Linked DNA regions of Homo sapiens. The protein of the gene in region 1 interacts with the protein of each later gene in a biochemical or structural test. Each region holds a gene or a part of one and is shown in the gene's direction. Other genes may lie near its edges. The genes, in order: CUL2, ARID1B, KHNYN, FNIP1, UBXN7 and SAP130.

What was found.
Region 2: the proteins of CUL2 (region 1) and ARID1B form a complex in vitro, tested with the Homo sapiens proteins (one study listed by BioGRID).
Region 3: the proteins of CUL2 (region 1) and KHNYN form a complex in vitro, tested with the Homo sapiens proteins (one study listed by BioGRID).
Region 4: of the proteins of CUL2 (region 1) and FNIP1, one has a biochemical effect on the other in vitro, tested with the Homo sapiens proteins (one study listed by BioGRID).
Region 5: the proteins of CUL2 (region 1) and UBXN7 form a complex in vitro, tested with the Homo sapiens proteins (one study listed by BioGRID).
Region 6: the proteins of CUL2 (region 1) and SAP130 form a complex in vitro, tested with the Homo sapiens proteins (one study listed by BioGRID).

What each region holds. Positions count from the first base shown.
Region 1 is NC_000010.11:35,078,885-35,083,841, reverse strand, and holds part of CUL2 (cullin-2), read left to right. Parts: intron 1-4,161; exon of another isoform or gene 4,162-4,244; intron 4,245-4,957.
Region 2 is NC_000006.12:156,783,209-156,788,165, forward strand, and holds part of ARID1B (AT-rich interactive domain-containing protein 1B), read left to right. Parts: intron 1-4,957. UniProt on the Homo sapiens protein: Involved in transcriptional activation and repression of select genes by chromatin remodeling (alteration of DNA-nucleosome topology).
Region 3 is NC_000014.9:24,427,730-24,433,348, forward strand, and holds the start of KHNYN (protein KHNYN), read left to right. Parts: upstream 1-2,224; 5' UTR 2,225-2,390; exon of another isoform or gene 2,391-2,894; intron 2,895-2,984; coding exon of another isoform or gene 2,985-3,001; coding exon 3,002-3,202; intron 3,203-3,733; coding exon 3,734-4,881; intron 4,882-4,992; coding exon 4,993-5,123; intron 5,124-5,206; coding exon 5,207-5,303; intron 5,304-5,619. Other genes in the region: CBLN3 (cerebellin-3 precursor), read right to left, coding at 60-257, 557-676, 1,026-1,325.
Region 4 is NC_000005.10:131,702,310-131,707,266, reverse strand, and holds part of FNIP1 (folliculin-interacting protein 1), read left to right. Parts: intron 1-720; coding exon 721-856; intron 857-3,000; coding exon 3,001-3,202; intron 3,203-4,957. UniProt on the Homo sapiens protein: Binding partner of the GTPase-activating protein FLCN: involved in the cellular response to amino acid availability by regulating the non-canonical mTORC1 signaling cascade controlling the MiT/TFE factors TFEB and TFE3.
Region 5 is NC_000003.12:196,365,813-196,370,769, reverse strand, and holds part of UBXN7 (UBX domain-containing protein 7), read left to right. Parts: intron 1-1,258; coding exon 1,259-1,349; intron 1,350-2,614; coding exon 2,615-2,742; intron 2,743-4,957. UniProt on the Homo sapiens protein: Ubiquitin-binding adapter that links a subset of NEDD8-associated cullin ring ligases (CRLs) to the segregase VCP/p97, to regulate turnover of their ubiquitination substrates.
Region 6 is NC_000002.12:127,943,788-127,948,744, reverse strand, and holds part of SAP130 (histone deacetylase complex subunit SAP130), read left to right. Parts: intron 1-3,185; coding exon 3,186-3,289; intron 3,290-4,957. UniProt on the Homo sapiens protein: Acts as a transcriptional repressor. May function in the assembly and/or enzymatic activity of the mSin3A corepressor complex or in mediating interactions between the complex and other regulatory complexes.

The sequences.
Region 1 (4,957 bases):
TTGAAGGAGAGAAAGTACAGGCTATGCTCCAGGCTGGTTTTGAACTCCTTGGCTCAAGCAGTCCTCTTGCCTTGGTTTCCCAAAGTGTTGGGATTACAGCAGGCATGAGTCACTGTGACCCGCCTATGGTTTATAATCTAATCCTATCATTCATTATTTTGTTGCTCTGATTTGTTCCAGTTTTGACCTTTAGTTTAACTTGTGTCCTTTCGATATGCCCCCACCCTCTTTGTGGGGGGAAAGCACCTTCTATTTTCTGACATCATAGGTGTTCTAGGTTCAACTTGTATTTTTCCTGCTTCAGCCCTGGAATCAATCACTTTTCCAAGGAGGAGCTCTGGTTCCTTTTTTTGGAGAATGATATTTAGAAACCAAGATCTAAGTTCTATGTGTGCCCATTGCCACTGTGGTGTCATTCCTCCTAGGCCCTTCTCAGTGAACAGAGCTAGAAATATATGTATATTCAACCATGCATACACAAACATCTATGTTTATATCTTTTTATCTGCATGTATATGTGTGTTTGTGTATTCAAAACCATGAGTTTGTAAATGATACCTTTGATTACAACTCATTACCACAGGATTAATGCTTGCCTTTCCCCTTTATTTATAACTGCTATTTTCTGACGGTGGGAAATAGAAGATAGCTTTCTTTTTTTCTTTTTCTTTCTTTTTTTTTTTTTTTGAGATGGAGTCTTGCTCTCATGCAGGCTGGAGTGCAGTGGCTCGATCTTGGCTCACTGCAACCTTTGCCTCCTGGGTTCAAGCGATTCTCCTGCCTCAGCCTCCTGAGTAGCTGGGATTACAGGCACCTGCCACCACACCGACTAATTTTTGTATTTTTAGTAGAGATGGGGTTTCACCATGTTGGCCAGGCTGGTCTCAAACTCCTGACCTCAAGTGATCTGCCCGCCTTGGCCTCCCAAACTGCTGGGATTACAAGCATGAGCCACCATGCTCAGCCAAAGATACCTTTGTAATTATGTAAGTGTATAGTTACCAAAATAATGAATAATGTGACATCAAGAGAAAGATCCCCAAGTAGTCCTGAGCCTTCAGAAAAATTTTATCTCAAGATATTTCTCTTTTATTTGATAAAAGTCTGTCTGAACCAAAAATAGTATTTTGTCATCATAGTACCAAGTATTATTTTGATTAGAATGCATCCATTTAAAAATTTTTAGAGAGCATTTTGCAGTGAGATTCAGATACTTCTCTGACATCAGAACTTTGTACCTGTGATCTAGTTTTTAAGCACTTAAAACATACATGACATAAAATTTACCATTTTAACCGTCATTAAGGGTATAGTTTAGTGGTGTTAACTGCATTTACAGTGTCATTGTGACCCTCACCACCATTTCCAAAACCACCATTTCCAAAACTTTTTCGTTACTAGACAGAAACTGTACAACCATTAGGCAGTAGCTCCCCATTTCCCCTTCCCCCAGCATCTGATAACATCTCATCCTTCTTTCTGTCTTTATGAATTTGCCCACATACATACTTTTGTTTAAATAGGACCATAAGATATTTTTCACCTTGTGTCTAGTGTATTTGACTTAGCGTAATATCTTCAAGGTTAATCCTTGTCGTAGCATATATCGGAACTTTTTATTTTGAGAGACAAGGTCTGGCTCTGTTGCCCAGGCTGGAGTGCAGTGGTGTGATCATAACTCACTGCAGGCAAATTTTTTTTTTTTTTCAGTCAAGATGATGTCTTGCTGTGTTCCCAGGCTGGTCTTGAACTCCTGAGCTCAAGTGATCCTCCCACGTTGGCCTCCCAAAATGCTGGGATTACAAACTTGATCCAACTCACTGGCTCTCTTTGGGATTGTAAACAGGAGGTGTCAAGAAAGTTGCTAGAGGGTTAATTGATATGCATCTGCCATAACTGTATCCCCTTTTTAATTATTCTTCCATGCCTGTGTCTTCTATAGCAGTGTCAGGACATAGGCAGGATTTAATGTATTATATAGCAGTCAGCAAATACAGTAGATTGTAGTGGTGCGGTCACATCTTGGGCTCAAGTGATCCTCCCATCCCAGCCTCCCTAGTAGCTGGGACTACAGGTGCATGCCACCACACCTGGCTGATCTGTTTGTATTTTGTACAGGCGGGGTTCACCATGTTGCCCAGGTTGGCTGCGAACTCCTGGGCTCAAGCAGTCTGCCCATCTTGGCCTCGCAAAGTGCTGGGATTGTAGGTATGGGCCACTGCACACAGCCAAAAAATTTGTTCTCAATGTTTTGATAATTTGTGTAAAGGCTGGTTGGTTCTAGCTTTGTCTAGTATTCATACACGATGGGCTTGCCTAGTCATGAAGGACTCAGAAATTCAAATTCTCTAATTTACCTGAGATCGGGGATACATATATGAGAATAGTTTTTTTTAAAAATGTCAGTTTCTTAAATTCGTTGACTAGATTATTGAACAAAAAATGAGAAAGCAAGTGAAAATGGCGTTAAACTTCAAGCTGATAAGAGCGATGTGAAAACTTAAGAAACAAAGTATAGGCTGTGCAGTCTTATGGGAGTCTAAAGTTCATTGCAGAGAGGGGTCTTTTATTCTGGTGCAGTGGGTTTATTTTTGGAAGCAGGTAGCTGCTTTTTTGTGACAAGATCTTGGTCTTTTGGCCCAGGCTGGAGTGTGGTGGTGCCATTGTAGCTTAATGTAACCTTGAAGTCTCCTTTGCTCAAGCCAAGCTCCCACCTTAGCCTCCTGAGTAGCTGGGACTCCCTGCGGGCGCATGTTACCAGAGGGCCCAGCTACTATAATTTTATTTTTTTTTAAAGACCAGGTCTGTCTATGTTGCTAAGGCTGTTTTCAAACTCCCAGGCTCAAGTGATCCTCCCACCTCAGCCTCCCAAAGTACTAGGATTACAGGTGTGAGCCACCACACCTGGGTGCAAATGGCTTCTGTAACTTATTGTATTATGAATACATTCCCTACTCCCCACCGTGTCACCCTTTTTGAGACTTCAAGATGTTTTCCTGCAGTATACATTTTGGCACACACCATATGTCTGTTCACTCTTTTTTCCCCAACTCATTTGTTTTTGTAAAAAACCTACTAGAAATTCTAGGCTGGGTGCGGTGGCACACGCCTGTAATCCTAGTAATTTGGGAGGCCAAGGCTGGTGGAAGCTTGAGCTCAGGAGTTCAAGACCAGCCTGGGCAACATAGTGAAACCCCATCTCTACAAATACAAAAAAGTAGCTCAGTGCAGTGGTGTGTGCCTGTAGTCCCAGCTGCTCAGGAGGCTGAGGCGGGAGGATCACTTGAGCCCAGGAGGTCAAGGCTGCAGTGAACCAGGATCACACCACTGCACTGGGTGACAGAACAAGACCCTGTCTCAAAAATAAATAAATAAATAAATAAATAAATAAATAAATAAATAAATAAAAATAGGAATTCTAAAGCCAGAAAGTCATGATGGAAATGTTGTTTATGGAGTACTTAGAGCTCTGTGGGTCAAACCTTAGTGCAACAAAAAACATTGCACCCTTAACCTCCAAATAAGAAAGGGCATTCTTAGTTACATCCAGTGGCTTGCTCATTTGATACAGCAAGATGAAAATGTTTAGATGCATTCTTGGAGCTTATTTTAATATTAAATGATGGCAACATATTTGGTCATTGTGCACCATTGGCAGCTTTGGGCCCACCTATGGAAATGGAAAATAATGCCAAGTTAATATGGTATTCCACTTCCCTGCCTCCCTTATTCACAGTTTTGTTTTCTGCATTTTAGTTACCCACGGTCAATGGGGTCTGCAAATATTAAATGGAAAATTTCAGAAATAACTCATAATTAAATTCTGTACTGTCCTCAGTAGTGTGATGAAATCTTGCACTGTCCTGCTCAGACGTGAATCATCCCTTTGTCCAGCATCTCTACGCTGTGGATGCCTCCTGCCATTAGTCACTTAGTAGCTGTCTTGATTATCAGATAGACTGTTGCAGTTTTGCAGTATTTGTGTTCAAGTCACCCTGATTTTACTTAGTAAGGGCCCCCAAAGTACAGGAGTAGTGATCCTAGCAATATGGATACACCAGAGAGGCTTCTGCCATAGAGTGCTTCCTTTACACGAAAAGTTGAAAGTTCTCAATGAGGAAAGAAAAAAATAATAGACTGAGATTGCTAAGACCTACTGTAAGCAGGTCTAATAAGAATTTCTTTTTCTTCACAATTATGAAAGAAAAGAAATTGTGAAGAAAGAAATTCTTACTAGTTTTGCTGTCAAATCTCAATCTGTAAAAGTGATAGTTATATCGTGTAATAAGTGCTTAGTTAATTTGGAAAAGGCATTACACTGGTGGGTGGAAGACATGAGCAGAGACAAGTTCCACTTGATGGCAACATACTGTGCCAGAAAGCATTGAGCCTATTTGAAGACTCAGCAAGGGATCCCCAGAGACGAATGACACCAAACCATTTACTCTAAGTCAGGGACTGTAACACATATTCAGGAATACAGAAGGTCAGTAGTAAGTAGCCCAATGCCGACCTTCCGATGCATGTGTCACTCACCTCACTTCATCTCATTACATAGGCATTGTATTGTCTCACACCTTCACAAGAAGGGCGAGTACAGCACAGTGAGATATTCTGAGAGACCATGGTCATGTAACTTTTATTATAGCATATTGTTATAATTGTTATATCTTACTGCTAGTTTTTGTTAATCTCTTACTGTGCTTGATTTATATAATAAACTTTATCATAGGTATGTATGTATATGAAAAAACATAGTTTCGGGCATTCCTGGGGATCTTGAAACGTATCCCCTTGGATAAGGCAGGGGACTGCTGTAAGGCTCTTTATTGGGTCTTCAGTATTTTCTCATTTTATGCATTTGGAAGGAAATCTGCTCTAAGCCTATTGAGTGGCATTTAAAAAACTAATTATGGTGTCTTAACTATCTGAAGTCAACTTAGACCACTCTATTGTA
Region 2 (4,957 bases), on another chromosome or scaffold:
GAAGTGTGTTATGGATGTGGAAATAATGCAGATCACACTTGGACACTTTTACTAATATACTTAACCTCTGAATGTCATTTTCCTTTACTGAAATTGAAGAAAATAACGTCTTTATTCTGATATTTAAAAAAAAAAAACATTAATTCTGATTTGAGAACTGATTTTAAAAATGTAAGACAATGTAGAGGAAGACTTAATATAAGCTCATTTGATCGTTTTATTAGACACAGATACCTTTTAAAGAGAATAGGTGTAATAGAATGCGGTTGAGTTTTCAGTTCTATTTTTTATTAATAGACTTTATTTCTTTATGATTCTGGGCAGGGTGTATCTATCTAAAAAGATGACTTCTGATGTAATAGGAACACTTGCTTTCCTAGGATAAATTCCAATATCACAGGCAAACCGAAAAGATGATCATTTCATTTATTTAACCCTACCCTTTCCTAGGAGATGAGTGATTTGATGAACATTTGTTAGGGTTCCATGAAATTTTCTACTCCGTTTGGAGACTCACTGGGGATGTAAATTTTGGATGTGCTGGCCTAGGACTCTGTATTCGCTTTTTTGCCGGTGTCCTCAATCTGGAGGCTTTTCTTGCAGCTCTACACTGGACTGACACTGCTCAGCTCATGGGGTTGTGTGCTTTGATCCATGTGGGTGGAAAAGGGACTGATATTTCACTCGTGTCACTTTTGTTTTGGAGTGTATGTGTAGATTTGTAAATTTGAGATTGATATTTATGTTTGATAGAAGTGTGGTGTGTTGCATAAAATGACAGATTTATGGAGGCTGAAAATATTAATAAAACTTAATTCCATTTTTTTTTTGCAATATTTAGGTTTTCCAGTTGGATGTTATAAAATTTTTATGACATTTTACACTGCTGTTATTACTCAAGGGGCCGTATCCACCTCTTAGGCCTTTTTGGGATTGGGTGGTTTTGGTTGCATGCCTTTTCGGAGGTGCCCTTTCCTGAATGGGAGGGAGGTTTTTGCAGGTTCTCTGTGGATATGTAAAGTAGTGCCGCACGCTTGCTGTGTGTGCTTGCTTGAGGCTGAGGAATCCCAAACCCTGTTCCCTGTCGTGTCCGGGAGAGGCACCAGGCAAAACTGTTCCTCTACCAAGAATATATTTCTGTATCATAGATGTAGAACTATTATAAATATCTTTTCTCTAGCTTGGAGGCTATTTGAATGAGACTCAATGGCCCTTTTGGTTTAATTGGGTAATTGAGTGAATTAATTCTGATCTAAAAACTTGGTGTACTTTAGCAACTTTTTCTTCAGGAAATTTGGTAAAGATAAAATGACTTAGGTATCAGTCATTACCTGAGTGTCCTAAGTATTCATTTGTTTTTCCTTATACTGACATCTGAATGAATGGAATGATAGACATATACTATATAGTTTTAATTAGCAATTCACTTTGAGTGAGTGAATTTTTTCAGAGTAGAATATGTGTTTCCACTGTAAGTTTTCACTAAATATGTTCTATTTTCAAAATCTTTGACTTGGAGTAATTCTAAGAAAATTCTTTCCTTACATTTAGTTATTTGTTTTTCTTTTTGAGACAGGGTCTCACTTTGCCACCCAGGTTGGAGTGCAGTGGCGCGATCTTGGCTCACTGTGGCCTTGACCTCCCAGATTCAAGTGATTCTCCTGCCTCAGCCCCGCAAGCAGCTGGGACTACAGGTGCACGCCATCACACCTGGCTAATTTTTGTATTTTTCGTAGAGATGGGGTTTCGCCATGTTGCCCAGGCTGGTCTCGAACTCCTGACCTCAAGTGATCCACCCTCCTCGGCCTCCCAAAGTGCTGGGATTACAGATGTGAACCATCCTGCCAGGCAAGATTTACTTACTTAAATAGGATCCAGTAGGCAGTTTTCAAACCCACATCTGTATGGATCAATGCCAAGAATATTAGAAGGCTACTGAGTTTGACAGATGAACTAATGATGAAATTAACTTGTTTCTTGGATGAGATTTATTACCAGGCACCAGACTAAAGCCCTAAAATCTTAAGCCTATCTGGTTTATGAATAGCTACTCTTATTTCCATTATTAAAATCAGGTAGATGGCAGCAGAATCTGGAGGAGATTCACCCTCTGTTGACCATCTTCTGTAAGGTGCACTTCTCAGTGTCTTCCTGGGCCTTGATGAATGATGAGCTGGAGAACTAGACCAGAAGCCATTCCTTATCAGGTGACTCTGGAAGGGAAGCCATATTTGATGAAATCCAGAAGAAATCCTGGACCATAATGCTACATTTTTTCTTTTTTTGTAATGGGATGCTAAAAAATTAAATATATGGTTTTTTTTTTAAATAGAGGTAAGCTATACGTACATAACATACAACTTACCATTTGAACCATTTTTAGGCATACATTCCAGTGGCATTAAGTACATTGTCATTGTTGTGTGGCTGTCACCATCATCATCTATCCCCAGAACTTTTCCTTCTCAAACTGAAATAAAAATATTTTTCTCTTTCTTTTAAAATTGTTAGCTGCTAATGTGTATTGTAAGTAAAATAATCTTGTTTTTGTAACCATTAATCTTATCACTTCATAGTTTGTGAGTAAATTCTTCCGCAGACATTCCATCAGGATGCTAATGGTTTTTTTGTTTGTTTGTTTTTGTTTTTTATTAGTACATTACTTCCTCTCAATTCTAACTTTGGGGTAATCCTCATAGAGTTTGAGGATCTCTTTGGAGATGTGTATTACAAAGGTTAGTAGTTTCACTGCCAGTTATGTTATTAAAATTTTGAAAAGCAGCTTTTTGGAACCTTTCTAAAGTTTAAAGGTTGAGGGTATTTGTTGAGAGAAACCTGGGACTTGGTTAGATAATAGGGTGTGGAAATGAACTGTTACCATTCTCACTTTTCCCTTGCTTTTCTTCCCTCACCTTTTGCATTTGTAGTCTCTTAAAAATTATTAATTTTATTTTCCCACTATTAGTGAAAATCATTTATAGTGATATTTTTTTCTATTCTTTCTGTGTTTGAAGTTTCTGGGCATCTCACCCCTACCAACCCAGAGCAAACCCAGAGTCTAGGTGGTGCCATGTCCTTTTCCATAGTGTTCTCTGCCACCAAATTTGTGCCTCCCCCTCATGTTTTTACTTTTTAGTCCTCTGCAAAACTTCAGAAATTCTTTGTATGTGGAAAAATTACTAAATTAAGATGATTGACCTTTTAGAATTACATTTTAAAGGCAGCTGTGAAGGGAGACTTCTAGATCCTGCCTAGTCTCATGAACAGGCGTCTTTGGTTTGTGTAAGGTATTGGAATTGTACTGGAATTGCTGCTGATGCTGATAGGTAGTCACATCTTTGTAAGATCAGTTATGTACTTTAACACCAGCTTCCACAGAGAGGAAATGAACTGTTACTTAAGAGCTTGTACTGGGAAGCAATAGTTATTTCTTTAAGGTGTAAACATTTAGCATTTGTGTATGCAGTGAGGTATATGTTAGATAAATATCTACTCCAGACAGTCAATTGGCAAATATTTATTGAGCTCCCACTTTCTTAATCAGCCCTGTGCCAGAGACAGACAATAGCTGGGGTCTGGGGATTGCTGCTGTTGGTGTGCGGATCATGCAGAGATACTGCTAACGCTTGCTCCCTCCATACCTGGATCGTGGTATTGCTGACATCATTGACTTAGAACTGGCTCATTTAAACAAATTGCAGATAGCAACCATGTGGGTCAGCAGTCTATTTGGCCTGCTTTTTTTTTTTTTTTTTCCGGTGGGGCAGTATATTTTGGCAAAACAAAATCTGGTCAACAACAATTGTAGGTTGTTGTGATATAGTTGATGTGATCTAGTGACTCTTTTCCATTTCTACCAATCAGTTACTGGCTTTGTGCCAGAGCGAAATATAGATTCACTACCGAGAATAATAACTAAAAGAAGGAAAATATAATCACTTTCAAATTTATATAGAATGGTCCTTTTTCTTTTTCTCAGTTTTCTACATTACATAGATTCTTGGAAAAAAAGTTAAAACAGTCTGTTCAGATTTAGGAAGATACTTGGATTGCTGGGGTATTTTTGGTAACTGTTTAGATAATGTATGCTGGCTGAGGAGTAAATTCAGCTACTGCTTCTGGGTCCTGAAATAAACCTTTCAGAAAGCGAGGCATTGATGATTAGTGGAGGCAGTTCCAGAATTCTTAGTATCTACTGTTTCTTTTTGTGATGAGCATCTTAGAAGTTAAACCACTCACCATATTTCATAGCCTTATATTGAAATGATTGTTAATTCTAAAATTCATTTAGAAGCTGGCGTCTAATTTGTGAAATCTTGAGAACCACCTTTTAAGATTCAGTGACCATATATCAAGCTACACACCCATTTTAATGCCCTTTAAATTTTCTGTTACCACTGGTATATTTTATAATAAATTCACTCTAACTAATGAATTATAAATGACCTTGGAAATAGGAATGTGGAACATTGCTACTGCTGAGCAAGTATCTTTCTGAAGAAGCAGACATAATTCCGAGGGGACTGGCATGTTTGCTGTGTATTAGTTTATTTTGGTGATTCTGAGGATTTGTGAGCGAATAAGCTTCTATGATGAGGCATCCTGACACAATGGTAAGATCATGGGCTTGGAGCTGGTCAGACCTTAGCTCATTTGGAGGCCTCAGCACCCATTTTCTCTGCACTCCAGCAGGGGGTCAGTTTCCTTACCTGGAATGTTGGCTGCTGGGCAGGGTTGTTGAAAACCTTCACTGAGGTCATGGATGTCTATCTGTGGCATCTGTATGTGGCCCCTCTCTTCTCTGCCTACCTGCCTTCCCATGTGGGGCTTGTTTTCTCATTCTCTGCCTGGTCCTGCTGTACTTCGGGGTGTGGCTGACTCAGGACAAGCCCTTGCTGGCATCAATTAGGTGATGCTCAGCCCCTCCCAGCTCCAAAAATCTGTGCTGCTTTGAATT
Region 3 (5,619 bases), on another chromosome or scaffold:
AGAGAGGGCAGAAGAAAGTTGTCAGGGGCTGGATTCTTGTGCTTGAAAGACTTGGGTCCTCAGAGAGGGAAGATGAGGAAGCCAGAGAAACTTGAGTATTTCCAACCACCCAGTAGATTCCCCCGACGCAGGCGCAGAGACACTCGGTCCCCAGGGTCCAAGGGCAGTAGCACAGAGCTGGTGGCTGCCTCCCGGGTCACGTCAGGATCATTGGCAAAGGCTGAGATGACAGGCCACGTGTTCAGCATCAGGCTCACCTGGGGAGGGGAGCCCAGTTAGCCCCCATTCCCCAGCCCTTAGCTCAGGACCCCCCACTTTCCCAGGAGCTTCCTCTTGGGAAGCTGGGTTTTAATGGGCTCTCCCGGGAGGGCTGAGGGGCGGCCAGCATTGGACTCTGCACATCCTCCACACTCAATGCAAGGCAGGCCCATTCCTCCCCTGGTCCTGGCCTCCAGGACACAGGTCAATGGAGAGTCCACCCGGAGGTCAGCTGGGCTCCCCTTCTTCCCCCTCCCCACCCTCCTGAGCCGGGGATGGGGGCCAGTGCTGAGGTCACCTGGACAGTTTGGCGGTTGTACACCTTCACCACATGGAACCGGAAGCTGTAGACACCCCGGACAGGGGCTACGAAGGAGCCAGAGGCCCGGTCAAAGCCACCGCCCTCGTTCACCAGGACCTGGGGGAAGCAGAGCCTGCTGAGTGGGGCTCAGGAAATGCCCATGGCTCAGGGGTACCATGGGGACTAGGGGCAGGGGCAGTGAGTAATGAATAGAAGGAGTGGCAAGTAGGAGTGAATAGGAGTGAACAGATTCAAAAGAAATGGTGAGAAGGGGCAAGGAGAGGGCTGCGTATGGGTGGAGGGAGGGGAAACCGTCGGTGGGGTGGTGGGGCAATAGGCCAGATTAGTGAAAGATGTAGGAAGCTGTTTTCTTAAAGCCTCAGAGACAGCAAAGTGGGCTTGGACAGTTGCTTCCAGGTCCTTGCAGGGTCTTTCCAGGTCCCCTGGACAGGGGTAGGGGGATTACCTGGTCGAAGTAGATGGCCCCACTGGTGCCATTGCCGGTTTCCCCTGCTGGCTCATGGTGGTGGCTTCGGACCGCAGCAAATGCCACTCGCCCAGGGGGTGCCTCTCCCAGGGCTGCTCCCCCGGGCCCCCCTGCAGCAGCTCGGCCAGGCTCACAGACCACCAGGCACTCCCCCTCCAGCAGGACGGGCTCTGACCCCTCCTGGGCCCACCCGGCCCCCAGGGCCAGAAGCACCAGAACCAAGGGCAGCCCGGGACTGTGTAGGGGACCTGGTAGCCAGTGTGGCTTGGCTCCCAACATGGCTGAGGGGCTCTGCAACCCACAAGTGCCCCGGTCTTCTGCCCCTCTTCTGTTTCCGCTCCTCTCCCTGGATTCTCACCGCCGGCACCCTGATCGTCTGCCCTCTCTAGGCTCGCTGAACCCCCTCTCCATACCTGTGTCCCAGCTCTGTCCTGCCTCCCACTCTTACTCCTGCTGTCACTGCAGTTCCCTCCTCCTTGGCAGAGCATGCAGTGACAGCAGTTGGGCTTTGGGAGAGAAAGGAGGGATGAAGCCGCCTGCCCACTGGACGGGAGGGCTGCAGCCAGAGCTTCAGGGCAGCCCTGCTGGATGGGACAGCACTGAGGGCTGGACCTGGGGGGATGGAGAACATGGTATGTGTGTGTGACGGGTGTGACAGAATGTGTGAGTGTGTGCATATGCCAGAGGCAGCCCCTCAACCCCTTCCTCCTACTCTTCCTCTCTTCAAAATCCCCCACAAATCAACAGCCCTTCTTCGTGGCATCTTTCCGTTTGTTGGAAGAAAGGGGTACTCCACCACGGGTACCCTCCGCCTCCCGCCTCCCGCCTACCCCCTCCGCCACGATTGCTTTGGTGGAAAGTGCTTGGGCCTAGAGCACCAGTGGGCCAGTCACGCTGCCTCTTTGGTCGGCCACATCTTTATTCGCGGGAAACAACTTTCAACGCATGGTTCCCCTTTCCGAGAAGTAACTGCGCAGAATGCGCGAGGACCCTGAGGGCCGGGAGACAGACGGGAGGGCTGGTGAGAAGCGCAAGGGGCGAGCCCTGGAGCCGCCGAGGGGACTAGGCCGAGCGGGCCCGTCGGGGCCTCTGGGCGCGGCGGCGGGGTTGGGAGGAGGGCGCGCAGCCGGGAGGAGCTGGGCTGACTCCGCCCCAGGCCAGGAAGTGACTCAAGAAACAGTTTGCGTGCGATGTGGACAAGAGAGGTCCCCGCTGGGTGAGGAACCCGGGAAGGCCCGCCCAGATTCGGGCCCCCTGCCCTTGTCCCCTGGGCTGGGGGCGCGGGCAAAGCGGGGGCCTGGCGGGCGCTGAGAGGACCTGAAGCCGGCGCGGGCGGCGGAGGCGGTAGGCGCGCCCCTCCACCGCGCCCGGGAGCGGGGAGCGGGGGCCGCGGTGCGGAGTAGGCCCGGCCCGGGGTGGCTGCCCCAGTCCGCGGTGGGCGGGCCCGGCCCGGCCCGGCCCCTGGGCCCTGGGCGGTGCTCCTGGCCCGACGGAGAGGGGCAGCGGACGGCTGGGGGAGGGGTGGGAGTGGCTTGAACCTTGGAAATGGCAGACCAGGGCCCCCAGAGGACAGCCTAGTTCAATCCCCTGCTGAGGATTCGTCCTTAAGAAGCTTCAGAGTGCCCCAGGAGACTCCTTCTGGCCTCCAGGCCGAGCTGGAGCCCCCCCACCCTTCTTGCTCCGGACTGTGGTCATCCTTTTCCAAAGCCCAGACGCCCACTCTCGATAGACAGCCTTGTTTACCGGGACTTCCTCTCCGGAGAGGCCTGCGTGACATACACCCTCCCTACCTCCAGTGGACTCAGATGCTTGTCACCTCCTGGGGCTGTTTACCAGAGCCTTAACTAGGTGCGACCTGTTGATAGCTGGTGTAGTCCCAGGAACCAGGATTTGGATGGAGGGTACAATGAGGCTCTGAGCTGCCTTCTCCCCTTCCAGGGCTGGGGGCAGCAGCCATGCCTACCTGGGGGGCCCGCCCCGCGTCCCCAGATCGCTTTGCGGTGTCTGCGGAGGCTGAGAACAAGGTTCGGGAACAGCAGCCCCATGTGGAGCGCATCTTCAGCGTGGGGGTGAGCGTCCTTCCGAAGGACTGTCCGGACAACCCCCACATCTGGCTGCAGCTGGAGGGCCCCAAGGAAAACGCCAGCAGAGCCAAGGTGAACGCCTTCTCTCCCCCATCCCTCCAGGCACCAAGGACGCTTTCCCCCAGGGCGGAGGAGAGCAGGGCCGAGGAGAGCAGGGAAGAGGAGGGGCCTGGGGAGGATCTCCACTTCTTGGTTGTCTCACTGGCAACCTCAGTGCCCCTGAGTTTTGAGGGACTTTCCAACTCTATATTTGTTTTCAGTTTCAGCTTAATTTCTTCTGTGATGGCCCAGGCTGGCAAAAATCATTCTGTGCTCTTTGGGAGAATAGAGATATCTGGCTGAACAAGTTGGCCCCACCAAGGAATGCACTGTGGGGTGGGAGGCTGGGCCACATTGCTTCCTTTGGGATTAGGCTGGGGTTCCAGGATGGCTCAATCATGTACCAGCTTTGTGATGGGAGTCTCAGTTTCCTTATCTCTAAAATGGGAATAACATCATGTGGATACTCCAGACATCCTGGAGCTCAGGAGCGAGCAAGGAGCCAGGAGGGGTGATCTGGGCCAGTTAGTTTACTTTTCCTGACCTTCCCTTCCTCCCAACCAGGAGTACCTGAAGGGCCTCTGCAGCCCAGAACTGCAGGATGAAATCCACTACCCGCCCAAACTGCACTGCATCTTTCTGGGAGCCCAGGGCTTCTTCCTTGACTGCCTGGCCTGGAGCACGTCAGCCCATCTGGTGCCCAGGGCGCCAGGCTCACTGATGATCAGTGGCCTGACTGAAGCCTTTGTCATGGCTCAGAGCCGGGTAGAAGAGCTGGCAGAGCGGCTGAGCTGGGACTTCACGCCAGGACCATCTTCCGGAGCCTCTCAGTGTACTGGAGTGCTGAGAGACTTCTCTGCCCTGCTGCAGTCCCCGGGGGATGCCCATAGAGAGGCTCTGTTGCAGTTGCCCCTGGCTGTCCAGGAGGAGCTGCTGAGTCTGGTGCAGGAGGCGTCTAGTGGGCAGGGGCCAGGAGCACTGGCTTCTTGGGAGGGGCGGAGCTCAGCCTTGCTGGGTGCTCAGTGCCAAGGAGTGAGAGCTCCCCCTAGTGACGGCAGGGAGTCCCTGGACACTGGATCTATGGGACCCGGAGATTGCAGGGGAGCAAGGGGAGACACTTACGCTGTGGAGAAGGAGGGAGGGAAACAGGGTGGTCCCAGGGAGATGGATTGGGGGTGGAAGGAGTTGCCTGGGGAAGAGGCGTGGGAGAGAGAAGTGGCCCTCAGGCCACAGTCAGTGGGTGGAGGGGCAAGGGAGTCAGCACCCCTGAAAGGGAAGGCCCTGGGGAAGGAGGAGATAGCTCTGGGAGGAGGAGGGTTCTGTGTCCACCGTGAGCCTCCCGGTGCCCATGGCTCCTGTCACAGGGCAGCTCAGTCCCGAGGAGCCTCCCTCCTCCAGCGGCTCCACAATGGGAATGCCTCTCCTCCGAGGGTGCCCAGCCCTCCACCTGCACCGGAACCCCCATGGCACTGTGGAGACCGGGGTGACTGCGGAGACCGGGGAGACGTGGGGGACAGGGGAGACAAGCAGCAGGGCATGGCACGGGGTCGGGGGCCTCAATGGAAACGAGGCGCCCGAGGGGGCAACTTGGTGACTGGCACACAGCGTTTCAAGGAGGCCCTGCAGGATCCTTTCACCCTGTGCCTTGCCAATGTGCCTGGCCAGCCAGACCTCCGCCATATTGTCATTGACGGCAGCAACGTGGCCATGGTGTGAGTACCTGGTGGGGCTAAGGGCCTAGGAGAGGGAGGATATGTCCTGAGGGGCTGGCATTGTAGCCAGGGTGCCAAGCCCCTCCTCTGGCCGACCCCCTCCCACTACAGGCATGGCCTCCAGCACTACTTCTCCAGCCGGGGCATTGCCATTGCTGTGCAGTACTTCTGGGACCGTGGTCACCGTGACATAACTGTCTTTGTGCCTCAGTGGCGCTTCAGTAAGGATGCCAAAGTCAGAGGTGAGTTGGGCCTGGTCTTCAGTGTCCCAGGATAGGCTCTGTTTCCACTTTGAGGAGAACCCTATTATGTTCTTTTTCAATAGAGAGTCACTTCCTGCAAAAGCTGTATTCCCTCAGCCTGCTCTCCCTCACACCCTCACGAGTCATGGATGGCAAGAGGATCTCCTCCTATGATGACAGGTACTTGCTCCTCTCCTGGCCCCAGGCTTGATATTGAAGGAGCCCTATGGAAGACTGAGGGAGAGAGAAAAGCTCCTGGTGGTTTACGCTGTTTCTAAGCCTTGGTGGTGGGTAAGGGGCCAGTTATTCCTCTGTGTGCCTTATGATTGGGTAGGTAAACCTGCCCTGCAGGTGTGATGAGATGAACTGTAGACAACCATGTTTGTCTATTCATCATTCATCAAACAAAATGATACCTTGTATTTATATAGTGCCTTACTGTCTAGAAAATACTGGTTTAGTGGAAAGGTGGGAAAGCTGGTTACATAAGTAGCTG
Region 4 (4,957 bases), on another chromosome or scaffold:
ATGAAAATCTCCTAGCCTAATGAAAAATCAGCAGTTGTAGCTCTTAACACCTCAAGCAATAAACATATCTTACAGATTTCACAGAAGTGTTTCGGGAAGGGAATAATCCATCCCCAAGATCAGGGGATTGCAGCCGTGAAAGAGTGGAGTCTGCTGGAATGTGTTTGTCACCTTAGATGCTCCAGGGAGCATTCTTTTTTTGGAGCTTAGTAGGTATAGTCATGATTCTTAATTAAAAGTGGTAGGTTTGACTACATGTGCACATGTGATCCATGAATACTTGTAAATGACCTCTTTAAATGCCATTCAGACACTTATTTTCAATAGCTTGTTCTTAAAATCCAGCTGCTGCATTAAGTTTGAATAGCATCAGATTTCCTTTAATTTAAGAACTAAAAGGATTCAACTGAGTTAGGGGACAGTCAATCCAGTGGCCAAAGGGATAATGCCTTGTTGCAAAGTATAATTTTCTTCTGGAGTCCCTAGAGGGGAATGCCAAAAGGGGATTGTCTCAGAGTTTTTTGCTGATACATTGTTAATATATGATTTTTCTCCTCTGAGACCTTGCTACAAGAAGGATGTGTTCTTTTAATGAACATTTTTGAGGCTCATGAAGCAAAATAAAGTTTAACTTAACCTATTTGTAATTTTGTTAAAAAGAAATTTGTCATTATGCTTAGTCATTATTGACTTATACTTGTTGTTCTTCTGACTTAACAGCATCTCTCAGCAGCTTGCTGATCACTCCATTTCCTTCCCCAAACTCCTCACTTACCCGAAGTTGTGCCAGCAGCTACCAGCGACGTTGGCGACGCAGCCAAACAACAAGTTTGGAAAATGGGGTATTTCCTAGATGGTAAGTTGGAACTTTAAACACAGAACAAGATTGAGTAGTTCCTTAAACACAATTTTATATGGGTTTTTTAGAACCTGGACTTGTATTCTGTGTATTTTAAGTTTGAAACTGAAAACTTTTAAAATTTACTACATTTTTAAAATTGTGGTAAGTTATACATAACAAGTTACAATTTTAACCATTTTTAGGTGTACAGTTCAGTGACATTTGTTTAAATACCTTCATATTGTTGTGCAACCATCATCACCATCCAACTCCAGAACTTTTTCCTCTTCCCAGCTGAAACTCTGTATCCATTCAACGTAATTCCTCATTTCTCCCTTTTCTTCCTCTTGTAACCACCATTCTATTTTCTGTCTTTATGAATTTTCATTCATACCTTGTATGAATGAAATCATACACTGCTTGTCCTTTTGTGTCTGCCTTATTTCATTTAGCATAATGTTTTCAAGGTTTATCGATGTTGTAGCATGTGTCAGAAATTCATTCCTTTTTATGACTGAATAACATTCCGTTGTATATACATACCACATTTTGTTTATCCATTTGTCTATTGATGGACACTTGGGTTGCTTCCACTTCTTAACTATTGTGAATAATGCCGCTCTGAACATGAGTGTGCAAGTATCTGTTCGAGTCCCCATTTTCAATACTTTTGGTTATATATCCAGAAGTGGAATTGCTGGATCATATGGTAATTTTGTTTTTAAATTTGTGAGGAACTGTCACGCTGCACACTGTTTTCCATGGTTACTGTACCATTTTACATTCCCACCAGCAATGCACAATGGTTCCAATTTCTCCATATCTTCACCAGCACTTATTTTCTGTTTTTTTGATAATAGCCATCTTAATGAGTCTGAAGTGGTTCCTCATTGTGGATTTTATTTGCATTTATCTAATAATTAGTGAAGTTGAACATCTTTTCTATTCTTTTCTTTTCTTTCCCTTTTGAGTCGCCCAGGCTGGAGTGCAGTGGCATAATCCCGGCTCACTGCAGCCTCAACCTCCCTGGGCTCAGGTGATCCTTCCACCTCAGCCTCTCAAATAACTGGAACTACAGGCTTGCCACCACACCTGGCTAATTTTTTTTTTTTCTTTTTTTTTAGAGATGGGGTTTCGCCATGTTGCCCAGGTTAGTAGAACTTCTGGGCTCGAGTGATCCACTTGCCTCAGCCTCCCAAAGTGCTAGGATTACAGGCATGAGGCACCACATCTGACTTGATCATCTTTTCTTGTGCTTATTGGCTATTTGTATATCTTTTTTGGAGAAATGTCTATTTAAGTCCTTTGCCCATATTATAACTGCATTTTTTTGCTTTGTTGGTGATGTCTGGAAATTCTGTATATATTTTAGATATTGATCCCTTATCAGATATATGATTTGTAAATTTTTTTTACATTCTGTGGGATGCCTTTTTACTCCATTGATAGTGTCCTTTGATGCACAAAAGGTTAAATTTGTATGTAGTCCAGTTTATTTTTTTTTCCTTTGTTGACTGTGCCTTTTGTGTTATATCCAAGAAACCATTGCCAAATCAGTGTCATGATGCATGATGCCTTTACCCTTTGTTTTCTTCTAAGAGTTTTATGTTTAGGTCTTTGATTTATATACTACATGTTTTGATATTTCAGTTTTTCATGTTTTTATTTTGGCAAGGTAATTCATTCTTGAAAGATTAGTTTTTAATCTACATTAAGTACAACTGTAGATACTAAAAGTTCTTGTTTTCTCCTCTTTTTTATTTCCTTTATTCCTTCATCTTTGACTTTACTCCTGAAATCAAAAACAGACACCAGAAGGGCCTAGAACAGGGAAAAGATTGTACCAGACTCATCTATAAATCTTAAAATTTAGCCACTTTTTGGTTGATTATGAATTGGGATTATCTACTTCTTTAGTTACTTCTAATTGGACAAAAAAATGTTCCCAATCTGACTCTGTAGTAAAATTTCTTACAAGAACATGAACCTGAAAGAATAGCCAGTAGATTTCTTAAAGAGATATACAATTGGTATGAAATTATAGGTTTGTTTGATAAAACAGCAAAAGACTTAGCTTACCTACATTTAATTAGCAAGAAGATTAAATTGTGAATTTATTTTTACTTTTGTAAATTAATAAAAAATCATTTATTTTTAAGGTCTATAGAAGAAAGCTTTAATCTCTCAGATGAAAGCTGTGGCCCTAACCCAGGAATTGTGCGGAAAAAGAAGATTGCAATTGGGGTAATCTTTTCATTGTCCAAAGATGAAGATGAAAATAACAAATTTAATGAATTCTTTTTTTCACATTTTCCTCTCTTTGAAAGCCACATGAACAAATTAAAGAGTGCAATAGAACAGGTAAGCATAGTTATTTATTTATGTATTTTCCTTTTAAAATCTTATTCTCCCAATTAAGCATTATATTTATTAATTTGGCAGAAAAATTAACAGACGTTGTGCATGTGTCCTATAAAGTGCTCTGGTGGATGCAAATAGATTGAACCCTTTTTAAGGTGCTTACTGTCTAGTAAAAGATATAAGATCATTCATCCATTTGTTCTGTAAATAAATATTTGAGGGACTAAAATGTGGTAGACACCGTTCTACCAACTAAAGAGAAGTGATAAAAGCAACACTTCTGACCTCATGGGACAAATAAACATATGAATATAGATGTATGTAATAAGTCCTGTGAAGAAAAATAAAACGGAGAACGGTATATAAGGGATCCTGCAAGGAAGGATTACTAATTTTTATAGGCTAGTCAGGAATGCCCCTTATTAAAGGACATGTGAATGTGGTCCAGAAATACGGAGCAGGTGAGCTACAACCATCTGGAACGAGATATTCCAGGCAGGGGCAAAGGCCTTATTGCAGGAGTAAGCCTGATACTTAAGCAGCATTACGAGGCCAAGGTGCCTAGGTTGAAGTGAGACTAGATCATGTAGGACCTTATAAGATACCATTGTAAGAACATTAGCATTTATTCTTACAAAAGTATGAAAGATGGGAAACCATTGGAGGGTTTTCAGTGGAGGAAGAAGGACATTATTTATGAGGATCACTCTTACTGCTGGTGGATAATAGATTTCTAGGAGCAAAAGTAGATGTTGTGAGACCAATTAGCATACTGTTACAGTAATCCAGATGATGAATACGCAAACCACTTTAGTGATTGAATTGGTAAGAAAGAGTTGGATTCTAGATATATTTTGAAAACAGCCAGTTTGATTAGCTGGTAGACTAATCATTAAGGTTGACTCTAAGATTTTTTTAGCCAAGCAGTTAAAAGGATGAAGTTGCCAGCATTGAAGTGAGAAAGACTGCAAGCGAAACAGATTTGATAAAGGAAGATGGGTATTTTATATTTGCATATGGACATCCTTGTGTTTTTATGAGTCTGGAGTTTACCAGAGAAGTCATCAGTGTATAGATGGTATTTAAAGCCATGAAACTGATGGAGATTGGCAAGAGAGGACAGGCAATGGTAAGCCTGAGTTGTGGTGCATTTTAACATTAAGAGTTTGACGAGATGAGAAGGAACCAGCAGAGGCGAAGGAAAAGGATTGGCTATTCAATTAGGAGAAAAAACAAGAGTGTATTCTTTTGGGGAAAGCCAAGTACAGAAAGTATTTCAAGGAAGGAGTGATCACTTTTGTCAGTTGCTACTGAGATAGTATATACGATACAAATATGTATAGTAAATTGTGAAATATTAGAATCTAAGCTAAAAAGGAAGGACAAAGGTTTTTTAGAAATTTGGGGGAAAGTGAAATGACTTCCTATTGGGAAGAAGTTTCATTTGGACTGCATTTTGAAGGATGTATGGGATGTTTTGGAACATAAAGCTCTGAAAATTGGATATAGCAGAATAGCAAGAAAATCGACATTCTTGCCACCCAAAGGGAACACAGTAACTCATTGCTGAAAAATCTTATTTAGGCCTTTTTTATGCATATTGTGCTTTTACTTGGTAGGGATTGTGCTGTGTCTACATTTTTCAAATTATATGCCCATTTAAAAAAACTCAGATTGAGCAACATGGCAAGACCCGGTCTCTACAAAAAAAAATTTAAAAATTAGCCAGGCATGGGGGAGCACACTAGTAGTCTC
Region 5 (4,957 bases), on another chromosome or scaffold:
GGATTATAGGCATGAATCACCGTGCCGGCTCAATTTTTTTATTTTTTATTTTGTGAAAAGTTATAGAAAATAAAAACTTATGAAGGAGCTTAATTTTTTCCCCTACTGTAAGATATGCTATTAATGTTATTAATTTGCCTGTTTATATTTTACAGGCCCCTAAATTTAATGTAACTTTAATGGTAAAATTCCTTGTATTTTATTCAACAAATATTGATCGAGCAGCTCTTTGCTTAGCACTGTGCTGGACTCTTGAGCTTATAATCTTTTTTTCTTTCTTTCTTTTCTTTTCTTTTTTCTTTTTTTTTTTAAATAAATGGACAGGGTCTTGCTCTGTCACCCAGGCCGGAACACAGTGGTGCAGTCATAGCTCACTGCAGGCTCTAACCCCTATAGGCTCAAGGGATCTTCCCACCTCAGTCTCCTGAGTTGCTGGGACTATAGGTGCACACCATTAAACCTGGCTAATTTAAAAACAAACAAACAAACAAAAAAAAACAAAAAAACTTCTCGTGGAGATGCCCAGGCTGGTCTCAAACTCCTGGCCTCAAGCTGTCCTCTGCCTCTGCCCTACAAAGTGCTAGGGTTATAGGTGCGAGCCACCATGTGGAGCCATAATCTTTTTTTTTTTTTTTTTTTTTTGAGACAAGTCTTGCATTGTCGCTGGGCAGGAGTGCAGTGGCACGATCTCAGCTCACTGCAGTCTCTGCCTCCCGGGTTCAAGCGATTCCCCTGCTTCAGTCTCCCGAGTAGCTGGGACTACAAGCGCCTGTCACCAGGCCCGGCTAATTTTTGTATTTTAGTAGAGACGGGGTTTCACCATGTTGGCCAGGATGGTCTCAATCTCCTGACCTTGTGATCCACTCGCCTCGGCCTCCTAAAGTGCTGGGATTACAGGCGTGAGCCACCATGCCTGGCCCATAATCTTAATATATTGTGATTTATTAAGATGTATATGGTTGAGAGTTATGAATGACATAGTTGACAGATAACTTGAGCAGGAAGAATAATACCTCATCTGAACTGGGAAAGGAGGAGGAATGGGTCAATATGTTTATGGTAAATTTCCAGAGAGTGCTGGAAGTGGGAAGTTGAAGGAGTTCAAACCAGATTTATTTTCTTTTTAGTGTAGGAGTGAGATCTTAATACATAGGCCGGAGGTATATTTGGAGAGCTAATTGATGTTGGTGTATAAGAAGGTTATAGTTGGTTCTTTTCTTAGAGGCTGACTTTTTTTTTTATATCAATGATTTAACAGGTTTATCATGACAGTGAGGAAGGTCAGAGATACATACAGTTTTATAAGTTAGGGGATTTCCCCTATGTTTCCATATTGGACCCACGGACAGGTAAGATTTATATCAGCACGCAGCTTTTAACCTATTACTTGTCTTTCAGTTACCTAAATGATTGATCTTTAATATTTGACTGGATCTGTTTTCAGAATTGCAGTAATTTAGGTGAAGGTTTCGTTTTTTTCCCTTTATAATTATTTAAACATCTATTGATGTATGTATTTAGGACATCTTTTTCTGGCAACATTGGGAGATGGTAGTATTTTATGTTTGTGCAGTTCTGTTCTTTTGAAGAATAACTGATATGTTCATCTTACCTTTTTTAAGGGATTTTTTAAAAGTTTTTTTACCAGCTGGGCGTGGTGGCTCATGCCTGTAATCCCAGCACTTTGGGAGGCCGAGGTGGGCGGATCATGAGGTCAGGCGATCCAGACCATCCTGGCTAACACGGTGAAACCCCATCTCTACTAAAAATACAAAAAAAATTAGCCGGGCATGGTGGCGGGCACCTGTAGTCCCAGCTGCTTGGGAGGCTGAGGCAGGAGAATGGCCTGAACCCGGGAGGTGGAGGTTGCAGTGAGCCGAGATCGCGCCACTGCACTCCAGCCTGGGCAACAGAGTGAGACTCCATCTCAAAAAAACAAAACAAGACAAAAGTTTTTTTTATCATTAAAATATTAAGATTGCCCAGATACTAGTTGTAATCCCACCTGAGAAGCAGAGGGTGGAGCTGGTTTTATTAATTGATGGTGTTTTATATAGATATTGCTTTGTCTGAATCTCTTCTTCCTAAATGGCAGTAAGTGATAGCAGCAGATAAGATAGTTGCCCTATCATTACGGGTGGGAATCTGTTAGGTGAGTATAATTGATGTGACTTCTAGGTTATGAAGACACTATGTAGCATAAGCTGGTGGAGAGGATATGTCTTTACAGTACACTTTATGCATGTGCTGAAAGAGATACTTAATGAGAATGTTCAGAAAGATCCTAGATATTATATTTACAGATCCTGGTTTTTAATGTATGCATATGCTGAAAGAGATAATGAGAATGTTCAGAAAGATTCTAGATATTACCTTTATAGATCCTGGTTTTTAATCTATGCATATGCTGAAAGAGATACTTAATAAGAATGTTCAGAAAGATTCTAGATATTACCTTTATAGATCCAGGTTTTTAATCTATGCATATGCTGAAAGAGATACTTAATGAGAGTGTTCAGAAGGATTCTAGGTATTATATTTATAGATCCTGGAGAATGTTCAGAAGGATTCTAGATATTATATTTATTTATAGATCTTGGTTTTTAATCCTTAGGTCAGAAGCTAGTAGAATGGCACCAGTTAGATGTATCTTCTTTCTTGGACCAAGTGACGGGATTTCTGGGTGAACATGGACAACTGGATGGACTTTCTAGCAGTCCCCCCAAAAAATGTGCCCGTTCAGTAAGTATAATTAGGAGGTGGTGATGGGAAAATAAATGTAATTGGTCATAAGCATCTTATATAAAATGTTCGATGTTAAGATGGTAAAGATAATCTAACTAGTGGACAACTATCACTGTGGCTATAGCATCTTAGATATCCTCCTTATATTTTGATAATTTCCCACATGAGAGTTCCATCTTCTTGGTGAAATCATGATACTCATACTCCTGCCAGTCTGTCTTGCAGCTAGAGTGCAGGCAGATGCCCCAGGATCTGGATTTAGAAGGAAGCAATGTGAATAGGTTGGGCAGGAGGACTGACCTGGCAAGCCTAGTGGTAAAGGTGTCTACTTCCTGAGGGGCAGCTCTGGGAGGGCTTCTGATATCCAGGTCTAAATAGCAGTGAAAGTGGTTGGTTTTTTTGTGTGTTTTGTTTTTTGTTTTGGAGTGGGATCTTGCTGTTTTGCCCAGACTGTCCTAGAACTCCTGGGCTGAAGCAGCCTTCTCACCTCAACTGCCCGAATAGCTAGGACTACAGGTACATGCCACCACAGCCGGCTGGAAGTGGTGTTTTTTGTTTTTGCTGAAACAACTGTCATGGTATAGTTGAGCATTTTTATTGGTTAATATAGCTTTAGGGCCTGGCTCTCTGGCCCTCCTAGAATTTACTTCTATACTTAATTTCTAGAATATACTATTACTAGGTAGACATGTTTGATAATTGGTATCAAGATTGGTTGCAAATAAGAGACTGAACTTGCAAAGATACAGCAATCTCACATTGGTTTTCATGGCTGTTTGGCTTTGATAGCAGTAGGGATAAAAATAGTTTTGTTTTGTTGGTTTTTTTTTTTTCCTTTTTTTGAGCCAGAGTCTTGTTCTGTTGCTAGGGCTAGAGGGCAGTGGTGTGATCTTGGCTCACTGCAACCTTCGCCTCCTGGGTTCAAGCGATTCTCCTGCCTTGGCCTCCCAAGTAGCTGGGATTACAGACGTACACCACTGCATCTGGCTAATTTTTGTAGTTTTAGTAGAGATGGGGTTTCGCCTTGTTGGGCAGGCTGGTTTCAAACTGCTGACTTCAAGTGATCCGCCCTTCTCGGCCTCCCAAAGTGCTGGGATTACAGGCGTGAGCTAACGCGCCCGTCCTGTTTTTTTCTTTGGGCAGGATCTTGTTCCATTTCTCAGGCTGCAGTGCAGTGGTGTGATCATGGCTCGCTACAGCCTCCACCTCTTGGGCTCAAGCGATCCTTCCACCTCAGCCTCCTAAGTAGCTGGGACCACAGATGTGCATCACCATGCCAGCTAAGCTGTTAAAGTTTTGTAGAGACGGAGGCCTCCGTATGTTGTCTAGGCTGGTCTCAAACTGGCCTCAAGCAATCCTCCCGCCTCAGCCTCCCAAAATGTTGGGATTCTGGGTGTGAGCACCACACCTAGCAACATTTTTATTGTATTGTATTGTATTTATTGTATTGTATTGTATTTTTTGAGATGTGGTCTCACACTGTTGCCCAGGCTGGACTGCAGTGGCATGATATTAACTCACTGTAGTCTTTGCAGCCTTGAGAGAACTTTAAAAAAAAAAAAAACTTGCTAGCCTTGAACTCCTGGGCTCAGTCAATCTTCTTGCCTCAGCCTCCTGAGTAGCTAGGACTACAGGTGTGCACCATCATGCCTGGCTAATTTTTTATTTTTTGTGGAGGCAGGGTCTCAATATGTTACTCAGCCTGATCTCAAACTCCTAAGCTCAAGCAATTCTCCTCCCTTGGCCTCCCGAAGTGCTGGGATTATAAGCATGAACCACCATACCATGCCCAGCCTAAAAATAGTTTTAGAAGATGTGAGGAACACTTCCTTCAGTTATCACCTATAATAAAGTGCCTATTTAAGGAAAAGCCCTAAGGGATAGTATAGAAATCTTGTTGGCCAGGATGGTCTCGAACTCCTGGCCTCAAGCAGTTCTCCTGCTTGATTTATAGTTTTTTTGAGAGCATTTTGTTGTTGTTGTTTCCTTTCTTCCATGTAATGCTTTATAATGTCGTTTTCTGCTTTTGGTAACATGTTAATGCTGACCTCACAATGAATTGAGAAGTATTTCTTCCTCTTCTGTTTTCTGCAGTAGTGTCTGTAGAATTGTTGTTATTTCTTCCTTAATGTTTGATGACATTTACCAGTGAAGCTACATGGGCCTAGAGTTTTTTTTTGGTGGAAAATTTTAAACTACAAATTCAATCTTA
Region 6 (4,957 bases), on another chromosome or scaffold:
CAGTGCCTCTTGACTATGAAACTTTAGTGCAGCTATTTTGCCTCACCTATAAAATAACATAAATTATATATAAATACATCAAGATAGACTAAAACTCACAGGAGGCCAGGCGCGGTGATTCACGCCTGTAATCCCAGCACTTTGTGAGGCCGAGGCGGGCGGATCACTGGAGGTCAGGAGTTCAAAATCAGCCTGGCCAACATGGTAAAACCCTGTCTCTACTAAAAACACAAAAAAATTAGCCAGGCATGATGGCGGGTGCCTGTAATCCCAGCTACTCAGGAGGCTGAGGCAGGAGAATCTCTTGAACCCGGGAGGCAAAGGTTGCAGTGAGCCAAGATCGCACCACCGCTACCACACTCCATCCTGGGTGACCGAGCAAGACTCTGTCTCAAAAAAAAAAAAAAAAAAAAAAACTCACAGGAAAGAAAAGAGAAACAAAAAAGAAGTACAGAAAACACATAGTAATGTGGCAGACCTAAGCCTTACATACTAGTTATTGTCATAAATGTAAATAGTCTAAACATACCAATTAAACACAGATTGGCAGAATCAGTGAAAAAACACAGTCCAACTATGTGCTGTGTACAAGAAACTCACTTTGAATGCAGTGGCATAGGTAGATTGACAGTAAAAGACTGGAAAAATACATACAAGCCAGGTGTGGTGACTCACGCCTGTAATCCCAGCACTTTGGGAGGCCAAGATGGCTGGATCACCTGAGGTCAGGAGTTCAAGACCAGCTTGGCCAACATGGTGAAACCTCGTCCCTACTGAAAATATAAAAATTAGCCAGGCATGGTGGTACACACCTGTAATTTCAACTATTCAGGAGGCTGAGGCAGGAGAATTGCATGAATCCCCGGGAAGTGGAGGTTTGCAGTAAGCCGAGATCATGCTACTGCTCTTCAGCCTAGGTGACAGAGTGAGACTCCGTCTCAAAACACACACACACACACACACACACACACACACACACAGACACACACAATACAAAATTAATTCACACAATATGAAATTAATTTACAGAAAAGCAGGAGTGGCTATATTAATGTCACATAGAGTAAAATTCTGAGGAAAGAAAATTGCTAGAGACACAGAGGGATATTACATACTGATAAGATAATCGGCTGACCAGGTAATGATCCATTTCTCTGCAGTGTCTTTTAAAATATAGGCAAGGACATTCCAAATTTATTTTATGAAGCCAATATTTTCATGCTATCAACACCAGACAGAGTGTACAAATATAGAAAATGACAGATCAATATTCCTCATGAATATAGATGTAAAAATGCATTAATAAAATATTAGCAAATCAGATCCAGCAGTATATACCTTGACCAAGTAGAATTTTTTCTTGCTGTGCAAAGCTGGTTCAACATTTGAAAACCAAAGTAATCCACCATATTAACTGGCCTTATTAATTTCCTAGGGTTGCCATAACAAAGTACTGTGAACTGGGTGGCATAAAACAGTACAAATTATTCTCATGGTTCTGGGGGCTAGAAGTCCAGAATAAAGGTCTGATAGGATCATGTTCTCTGTGAAAGCAGTAGAGGAGAATCCTTCCTTGTCTCTTTGGTTTCTTGTGATTGCCAGCGATCTTTGGTGTTCCTGGCTTGCACCTGCACCACTCCAGTCCCTGCCTCCATCTTCAAATGGCATTCTTCTCTGTGTCTCTCTGCCTCTCCCATCCTCCTTTCTCTCTCTCTCTCCTTCTCTCCCCTTCCTTTTCTCTCTCTCTCTCTACTTCTCTGTCTCCCTCCCTCCTTGTATGGACACCAGTCATTGGATTTACAGCTCACCTTAATCTAGTATGACTTCTTAACCAAATTACCTTTTTTGTTTGTTTTTTCTTGTGACGGAGTCTCGCTCTGTCCCCCAGGCTGCAGTACAATGGTGCGATCTTAGCTCACTGCAACCTCCGCCTCCTGGGTTCAAGCAATTCTCCTGCCTCAGCCTCCTGAGTAGCTGGGATTATAGGCGCCCACCACCACACCCCGCTAATTTTTTGTATTTTTAGTAGAGACAGGGTTTCACCATGTTGGCCAGGCTGGTCTCGAACTCCTGACCTCAAGTGATCCACCTGCCTCGGCCTCCCAAAGTGCTGGGATTACAGGTGTGAGCCACTGCGGTCAGACTACATTACATTCTAATATAGTTATAGTCACAGGTACCAAGGATCTTCAACATGTCTTTGGGGGGAAAACCATTCAACCCACAACAAAAGCTAAAGAAGAAAAATCACATGATTGTATCAATCAATATAGAAAATTTGACAAAATTAAACACCTTTTCATGATAAACAGTGTTCAAAAACAGAAAAAGAAGGGTTCTTCCTTGATTTGATAAAGTTGTTCTGCCCTTGGAAAGGCTCCCCCAGCTGTCTTATGCTTTGTTCTTTCCTTCAAACCAGCCTGCACATAGTCTAGGCTATATCTTCATTAGTTCACAAATCTCCCCCAATTCCCTTTGCCACAGCCTCCACTGTTATGGGGAGCACCTTTAGGTTTGAACTTCTTCACACTCTTGCAAATGGACTCACTTCCTTCAGGAAGAAATTAGAAGGTATCTGTTTTACAGCCCACTTCTTCCGGCAAAATGTTTGAACCAGGGCCTTAGAGATGGGGGAGGCCCTGGCTTGACACGTGGCAAGCTTCTCTCTGAGTGACAGCCCTGCTTTAGGAGGTAGCACTTAGTGGAGGTAAAGGAGGGGAGTAAGCAGCCTGGTGTCCTCTTGGCTTGCCTCTCCTAGATGAAACCATTACCTCAAATAAAAAAGTTCTTATGGCCAGGTACGGCAGCTCATGCCTATAATCCCAACACTTTGGGAGGCCATGGCAGGCAAATTGCTTGAGCCCAGGAGTTCAAGACCAACCTGGGCAACATAGCAAGACCTCATCTCTACAAAAAATACAAAAGTGAGCCCAGCATGATGGCGCACACCTGTAGTCCCAGCTACTTGGGAGGCCGAAGTGGGAGAATCATTTGAGCCTAGGAGGCAGGGGTTGCAGTGACCTGAGATTGTACCACTGCACTTCAGCCTGGGTGACAGAGCCAGACACTGTCTCAAAAAAAAAATAAAATTCTTGTTAAAATAATGGCATTTACACTGCTCGAACACAAATCATTTACCTTTTTAAACACTGAAATACATGTATTTTTATTTTTTATGGTTCCAGAGGAGAAGAAAGCTATGCTGCAGGAAATAGCTAATCAGAAAGGAGTATCCTGTCGTGCTCAAGGCTGGAAAGTCCACCTCTGTGCTGCCCAGTTACTACAGCTGGTAGGTGGAGTTCTAGCAGTTGTTCATCATGCTGAAGAGAGGAGAAGACACTGCAGATAGCTGAGTTCATAGAACTTTTTAAAAGTAACTCTGAAGCATTCCCAGCTAACATGGGTTATGATAGAATTTTTATGTGTGCTATGTAATATCACACTGTGTCAGTTACATGTGATTAAAATTGAAATATATCTAAGTTCTGGTATCCAGATCCAAAATATATGGAACAACTGTGGTGTAAGACCTAAATTTAAGATTCAGTGTTATGTGATATTGTGACATCTGAAATAGGGGGAGCCTCAAACGGCCTAACCGAGAGTCCCTCCTCCCAACTCTGCTCCCTCAGATGAAGTCTCCTAGGCAAACAACCCTTCATACCACAGGGACCAGGCACACAATTCCTGCTCCTTGCTGAGTAGTAGGCTCCAGTTCCCTGCCAGCTTCCAGTATTCCAATTTCCAATGTTACTCAGATAAGCCAGTCACACACATCATCATTCAGAGACCGGGGCATACCTCTCCCTCTCTCCTGTTCTTTTTTTTTTTTTTTTTTTTTTTGAGACAAGGTCTTGCTCTGTTACCCAGGTTGGAGTGCAGTGGCACGACCATGGCTTACTACAGCCATGATCAACCTGCTGGGCTTAAGTTAATCCTCTCACCTCAGCACCCCCAAACAGCTGGGACTGCAGGTGTGAGCCACTGCACACAGCTGATTTTTTAAAATTTTTTGTAGAGGCCAGGCACGGTGGCTCACATCTGTAATCCCAGCACTTTGGGAGGCCGAGGTGGACAGATCACGAGGTCAGGAGTTCGAGACCATGGCCAACATGGTGAAACCCCTGTCTCTACTAAAAATACAAAAATAAGCTGGGCGTGGTGGCAGGCGCCTGTAATGCCAGCTACTCGGGAGGCTGAGGTAGGAGAATTGCTTGAAACCAGAAGGTGGAGGTTGCAGTGAGCAGAGATCATGCCACTGCACTCAAGCCTGGGCGAAAGAGCAAAACTCCCTCTCGGGGAAAAAAAAAATTGTAGAGACAGGGTCTCACTATGTTGCCCAGGCTGTACTGTGTCTTAATTTTTAACAAGTATAAAAAGTTAAAATTTTTTTTTAATAGAACATAAGGGGCCAGGTTCAGTGGCTCAGGCCTGTGATCCCAGTACTTTGGAAGGCTGGGGCAAGAGGATTGCTTGGGCCCAGGAGTTTGAGGCCCACCTGGACAACATAGTGGGACCCTGTCTCTACAAAAAAAAGTGTTTTAATTAGCCGGGTGTAGTGGTGCACACCCCCTAGTCCCAGCTACCTGGGAAGCTGAGGTGGGAGGAACTCTTGAGCCCGGAAGACCAAGGCTGCCCTTAGCCATGATCGCACCACTGCACTCCATCCTGGATAACAGAGTAAGACACTCTCAAAAAAAAGGAAGAAAACAAAGTTTATAGAATAAAGATACAAAGAAAGAAAATATTTTTTGTAACCGCCCAACAGTATCCACATTTGTCCAACAATATGTGTTTTAAGCTAAGTTTTATTGCAAAGGAGTCAAAAAGTTTAAAACAATTTAAAAGTTTATAAAGTAAAAAGAGTATGCTACGGTTAATTTGTTATTGAAGAAAGAAGAATATTTTTAATAGATTTAGTGTAGCCTAAGGGCACAGTGCTTATAAAGCCTACAGT